2 separate regions of the Homo sapiens genome follow, and region 2 is linked to region 1. The links come from fine-mapping of genetic effects on gene expression. A gene starts in region 1. The other region holds a variant in brackets. All regions are shown on one strand. Distances are between the middles of the regions.

Region 1 (2,898 bases):
GGGGAAAGTGAAACCCTCTGAGCTGCAGATGAGGCATCTCATTAGAAGCAGCGCTTTTCTGTTTTCTCAAAGCCTGACTTCCCTGCCTAGCAGAGAGGAATATGGCTGCAGCCCGCTGCTCCCCATCCCTGTCAAGCACTGGGGCCTCCCAGGGCTTAAAGGGTAAGACCTAGCCTCCAGGTCTCCTTCAAACCAGATAATCTCCCCCCATCCCCCTGCATTGTCTGGAGTGCCACAGTTTACAAAGCACATTAACATGCATTAGCTCATCTGACCCCCACAGCAACCATAGATACAGGAAGAGTAGGTCTCCCACCTCACAGCCAAGGAAACTGAGGCCCAGATAGAGAAAGAGACTTGCTAAGGTCCACTGTTGGTAATTGGCAGAGATGAGATAGAATCCCAACTGGTGGCCCTTCAGCCCGTTTCTCTTTCCCTGGGTCTAGTCCTCAGAAGTGATTGCCAGGACCAAGCCTCCAACACATCTGTCTGGAGCCCTCCTTGGGCTGAAGAAAAATCATTATTTCTATCCCACCTTGGAACTCTGTACTGTCTAGGCAAAGAAAAAAGACTTGGGATTTAAAAGTAGGTGGCCTTCCGGCCAGGCGCAGCAGCTCACGCCTGTAATCCCATCACTGTGGGAGGCTGAGGTGGGTGGATCACGAGGTCAGGAGTTCGAGACCAGCCTGGCCAATATGGTAAAACCCCGTCTCTACTAAAAAATACAAAAATTAGCTGGGCGTGGTGGTGTGTGCCTGTAATCCCAGCTACTCGGAAGGCTGAGGCAGAAGATTCGCTGGAACCTGGGAGCCGGAGCTTGCAGTGAGCCGAGATCACACCACTGCACTCCAGCCTGGGCAACAGAGCAAGACTCCATCTTAAAAAAGAAAAAACAGAAAGAAAGAAAAAGGAATGAAAAGAAAAAAAGTAGGTGGGTAGGTGGCCTTCCTAGGGTAGGCAGCCAGAACATCAGCCCCAGGATTCTGGGGAGAAGCAGGGTCCAGGAGAAGAGATGGGCACTGTCTCTTTTCCTGCCTTATGAGTTACAGAGCAAGAATCGTCAACTCCATAATAGCAGCAGGAATCTTTGTTTTGTTCAGTGCTGTATCCCTAGTGCCTTAGAACTGTGCTTGGCACATAATACATGCTCAGTAAATATTTGTAGAATGAGAAAAGCTTTCAAGGCCATGCCTGTGCTTGCTTCGAGAGAAGTTGAGATAAGCTCTCCCGCTCCATGGAGTCAGGATGCTTTTGGGGGTGCTGCTGGGGTCAGGAGTAGTGCTGTAAGACTCGGTAGGATCGTTTGTGCCCTGAAGAGGGTTAACTTTGCCAAACAATCCGGGAAGCAACACGAAACCCCGGGCAGAACTGGTAGGAAGGAAAAGGATGTGATCAGAGAAATATTGCTCTGAAGAAGAGACAAAAATCAAGGCTGAGGGTCTGGGAGTGACAGATGGGATGCGTCCTCCAGACAATCATTGAAGACCACGACCCTGGGATCGGAGCAAAGACGCTCACCGAGCTAGGACCTAGAAGCCTCCAGGTGGCGCTGCGGAGCCGGACAGCCGTGCGTCTCCACTCCCCATTAACCCGGGAGGGTGGAGGCCTCAGGAAATGTGTGCATTTATGCAGTAGCAGGAGTGCAAACCTCATACATTGAGGGAGAAAGGCAGCGGGAGACGGCCACGAGATTCCCCCATCTCTTTGAATATAATTTTAGATTGAGATTCAGATTAAATCCGAGGGGAAAACACTTTATGAGGCTGAAAGCTGTGTCGTTGCCAGAGACAGGGTTATGAGCTATCAAATGCAATTACATTAAGACAGATTATACTGGGCAAATTGAGCCATTTAGAAGGTGAGAATCAAAGAAACGGCTCTGATCCTCTTTTCCCCCTTCTCTCTCCCTCTCCCTCTCTCTCTAAATTGCAGTTCGTAGTTCCTTCCAATTCTGAGGCACAAAAGTAGGTGAGACTGCTTTTGTATCTGCGAAGTGCTTCACTCCTGAATGTAATTCTAGCTGAGTGCAATCTAGGTTAAGAGCCGGACAAGCGGGTAATTAGAGCCCGCTAGCTGCCCGAAGACCGGCCGCCCCTCCAAAGCGCGCCCCGAGTCGGCGCCCTTCTCCCGGCCGAGCCTAGCTGCGGCTGGACACGGAGCGCCCGAGATGATGGTGCTGGACAAGGAGGACGGTAGGTGGCGGGCCGGGGTCTCGACGCCCCTCACCCCCTCGCCCCCTGCCGCGGCGCGCAGGCACACACACGCGGGGACACGGGCGCACACCTGCTGGGCTGTGCGGGGATTGCGGGGCGGGCGGCGCGCTGGGGGCCGGGGCTGGGGCGGGGGGAAGTACCGGGGGACAGCCGGGCGGAACTTGCGGGGGGAGGAGGTCGAGCCCCGGGCTGCACGCGCCCGGGGCCGCACGCCCCCCGGGTCCCGGCCGCGAGCCGAGGAGCTGTGCACTGGCCGTGTGCTGCGCCGCGGGGCCGCGCGGAGGCTGGGGCTCCCTTGCGATCTCCGCGCCGCGGAGGTTCGCTCTGAGCATTTCGTGTCTGAGGCTGCTGCTCTCACCGCAGCCATCACCCTCGCGCCAGCCGCCGCGTAACCCGAGAGGCGCTGAGCGCCGAGCAAATCAGCGGCTTCGGGGAGAATCGGGCTCCAGAGCTCGGGGCAAGCGGGAGCGCGGGAGGACGGCGCGAGCGCCAGGGTGCCCGGCAGGCGAGGGGAAGGCGGGTTGGACCCTCCGGGGGACATCTGCATGAGCGTGACTCGGTGAGAAAGAGAGCCGCCTCTTGTGCCGGCCCGCTAGCTCCCTGTCTCTCTGAGCGCGGAGGCGGGAGTTTGGCCCAGAGGAAGAAAGTGTCCCGCCGCCGGCCGGTAGCACTTGTGCGGGAGCGG
Region 2 (2,898 bases), 30 kb after region 1:
TAATTTTCTGATTTCAATTATTATACTGTGGTTATGTAAGAGAATGTCCTTGTTTTCAGCAAAGCATTTGCAAACCGAAAGTATTAGGGGGTATAGAGGCTTCCTGTTTGAAACCAACTCTCAAATGATTTAGGGAAAAAATTATAGGTAAGTAGGTAGAAGTAGGTAGAAAGATGGAGGTTAAATCAAATGTGGTAAAATGTTATATGTAGGGAATCTGGGTGAAGGGCTTACAGGAATTTTTTCTACTATTCTTGCAAGTGTTCTGAAAGTTTGAAATTATGTCAAGAGACAAAAAGTTAAAAGAAAAAGAAAGCAAGTGCCCGAGCAGGGATGGTATCCTGGGGTGACTGTTAATACTATCAGTTCCTGTTCACTGTGCCCTGGGCACCAGACTCTGTGCTATGGCCTCATGTGCAGAAGAACCTCATTCTATCCTCACCACATTCTGAGCGGAAAGACCACTGTGGCTCCCAGTACACACATGCCAGTCAGAAAGGTGGGGGGATTTAATCCAGGCCCCCCAGCTCCTTGGAGCAGTTCCGACTTGAAACTAGGCTCCCTGATTTCAAGGTCTGAACTCTTAGCCTCAGTCTCACTCTTGACTCTGACCTTTTTGGGAGAGTGGGGATGGGCAGGACAAAGGCGTTTCTTCCTGGAGTAGTAGCAGAGTGAAGGCCCCGGGACACAAGCTAACAAGATCCATTTGCGGGAGGGAGAGGAGCTGTGTTCCAGGATCCTGCAGGGGGCAGAGCCAGCAGTGCCAAGCAGGAGACACTGGCTTGTGGGAGGGGCTGCAGATGCCCAGTGGAGTTGCCAGGAGGTGGCCACAGTGGCTTCCAGCAGGGGAGCCACGGGGAAGAGCCTGGAGTGACCTGGAGCTGGGTGAGGTAGACGTTCTGGGCTGGAAGAGTGGCCTTGGAGGAGCTCACTGGGGTAAGCATCCCCCAGGCTGCCATCCAAACCAGGGGCACTGGTAGTACTGGAGCCTGTGGGCTTGGCAGTTTGGGAAAGTCCACGTGCTGGAGCTGAGGGGCAGCTGGGCTGGGACAGGTGGGCAGGAGTTGCTGGGGACTTGGGTCTGGCCTAGTGGACTGCTCTGGGGTCCATGTGAAGATGAGGGCATTTCTCCTCCGGGCTGGAGGGAGAGAGTGGGAGGGGCGGGATGACCTCTGGCAGTGCGTCCCCGTCACCTGGACTGTCTGGCTTTCCC[C/T]CAGATTAAAGAGTGGAGGGTGAGTGTCTGGCAGCCAGATGAGTCAGACTGGGAGGCTTCTCTCCCAGCCTGGCTGCCTCCTTCCACCAGCAGCCCTGCCTCCACCCCCTGCTAGAGGTAGGGGTTGGAGTTCAGCCTGTTTCCCCTCCAATGTTGTTCCCCCCACATCCTGAGACTTAGGGGTGACCCTGGGTTGAGTGGACTGGTTTATTCTGCTGGGCCCAGCGCATGCATCTGAGTGTGTGCCCAGGCGTGCGTGTCGGCGCAAACATCATCCATTGTGAAATATCAGTGTTTTCATGGGTGAGTAGTAATTACTGGGTAATGCTTTAAAACCTTTCCTGAAGGAGCGCAAAGCCATTTTTTTCTAAAGTCAGGAGTACATTAAAAGGATTACCATGTAGATTTGATTTTTAGATAACACTAAAATGGATCCCAAATGGACTTCAGCAAAGGGATGCTATCTCCTTAATGGAAAGTGCATGGCCCGAGGCTCAGGTCCCAGAGCCAGGCTGGGGAAGGAGGGAGGGAAGAGGTGTCTGCAGGGGGGCAGGCTGGCAGATTGGGTGGGGGGCTAGGTGGGAATGGGGAAGGCAGAGCAGGAGGGAGGGCCTGGACCCTGTGGGGAGCTTATCCCTCCATCTGGGGAGCAGGAGACTACAGAGCCCCTCCTGAAAGCCCCTCCACCTTTCCAGGAGTGTTTTCAAGTCTCCTGGACCAGCCCGGTGAGAGCAGACACAGCATGGATGCCCTATGAGGAAGGAAGGCTGGCTCCACTGTTTTGTTTGTTTGACCCCCAGAGCTCTTCCACTCTCCTGTGAGAAGCAAGGGATTGCTTCCGTTTTTCTTATGGGCAGATGAAGGAAGTTAGGCCCAGAGAGACCAGGGGGATATGCTCTGGACCCCATAGCCACAGGACTGCAGACCTGGAGTCTGGTCCCAGGCCCCTCCCATGGGGCTGCCCTGGCTCAGGCTTCCCCCAGGATGCCAGCCTTTCTCGTGGGAGGTCTCTAGACCCAAGGGTCTCTAGATGCTCTGGGGCCTTCTCAGCCAGGCTGACCCTGGTGTTCCATGTCTTGGTGGACATGGGACACTTTGGCAGAAGCTGTGTGGCTTCTATAAGAGTTCTCCAGAGCCAGGAATCAGTTCAGCACCCCAGAAGAGGGAGGGGTGTCCAGGTCTTAAGGTAACCTGCCTGTGCAGAGGCCAGCCTGGGCACGGGCAGTGGGGAGGGGGACCTGCGGCGGCTGGCAGCTTCACCCCTCATGGCTTCCACAGGGTCCTCTAGGTGCCAGATGCCTCCAGTGAAGAGATTGTCGACCAGTGCTGGAGTTTACAACCCTGCGGGAGCCAGGACAAACATGCTGGGGTCTGAGCTCGGAAGACCAGCCTGTCCAAGAGCCAGGGTAGATGGAAGAGAGAGTGGGACAGCTGCTTCACGTGCTGGGGCCTCTCACTGTCTCCCTTCATTTTGGGCTATAATTTAGTGGGCTAGGGTCTCCCCTGAGTACGGAGGTTCCAGCCATTCACCCATGTTCTGGTAATAGCCCAAATATAGAGCCCTGGGAGGGGCTCAGGACCACTGGGAAGGGAGCCAGGCCTGCTGCAAGCCTGGCTGAGCAAAAGGAACGTGAGCCTTGTAGGGGCTGTAGCGGGGGCCTGGCCCAAGATTTTCCCAGTCGGTG

Direction of the effects. Positions count from the first base shown, and alleles are read on the strand shown. Sizes are in standard deviations (SD) of each study's normalised expression.
In carriers of allele C in region 2, the expression in left ventricle of the gene that starts at base 1,652 in region 1 tends to be higher than with T alone (small effect, 0.32 SD a copy in GTEx).

Evidence for each region. PIP is the estimated chance that this variant, and not a neighbour inherited with it, causes the effect.
Region 2: its variant is fine-mapped to the expression of LMO1 in left ventricle (GTEx, PIP 0.97).

What each region holds. Positions count from the first base shown.
Region 1 is chr11:8,262,632-8,265,529 of GRCh38, reverse strand. LMO1 (LIM domain only 1) reads left to right here and starts at 1,652. Exons shown (of 4, transcript NM_002315.3): 1 at 1,652-2,192. The coding sequence starts at 2,168. RefSeq lists a silencer at 2,441-2,530.
Region 2 is chr11:8,232,593-8,235,490 of GRCh38, reverse strand. All of the region lies in intron 1 of LMO1 (LIM domain only 1), which reads left to right. It overlaps LOC105376536 (a long non-coding RNA gene), which reads right to left. Exons shown (of 4, transcript XR_007062582.1): 4 at 2,472-2,554. Among named protein-coding and RNA genes, the nearest start is that of LMO1, 30 kb to the left of the region's middle. The variant C/T (reference allele first, on the strand shown) is at 1,214.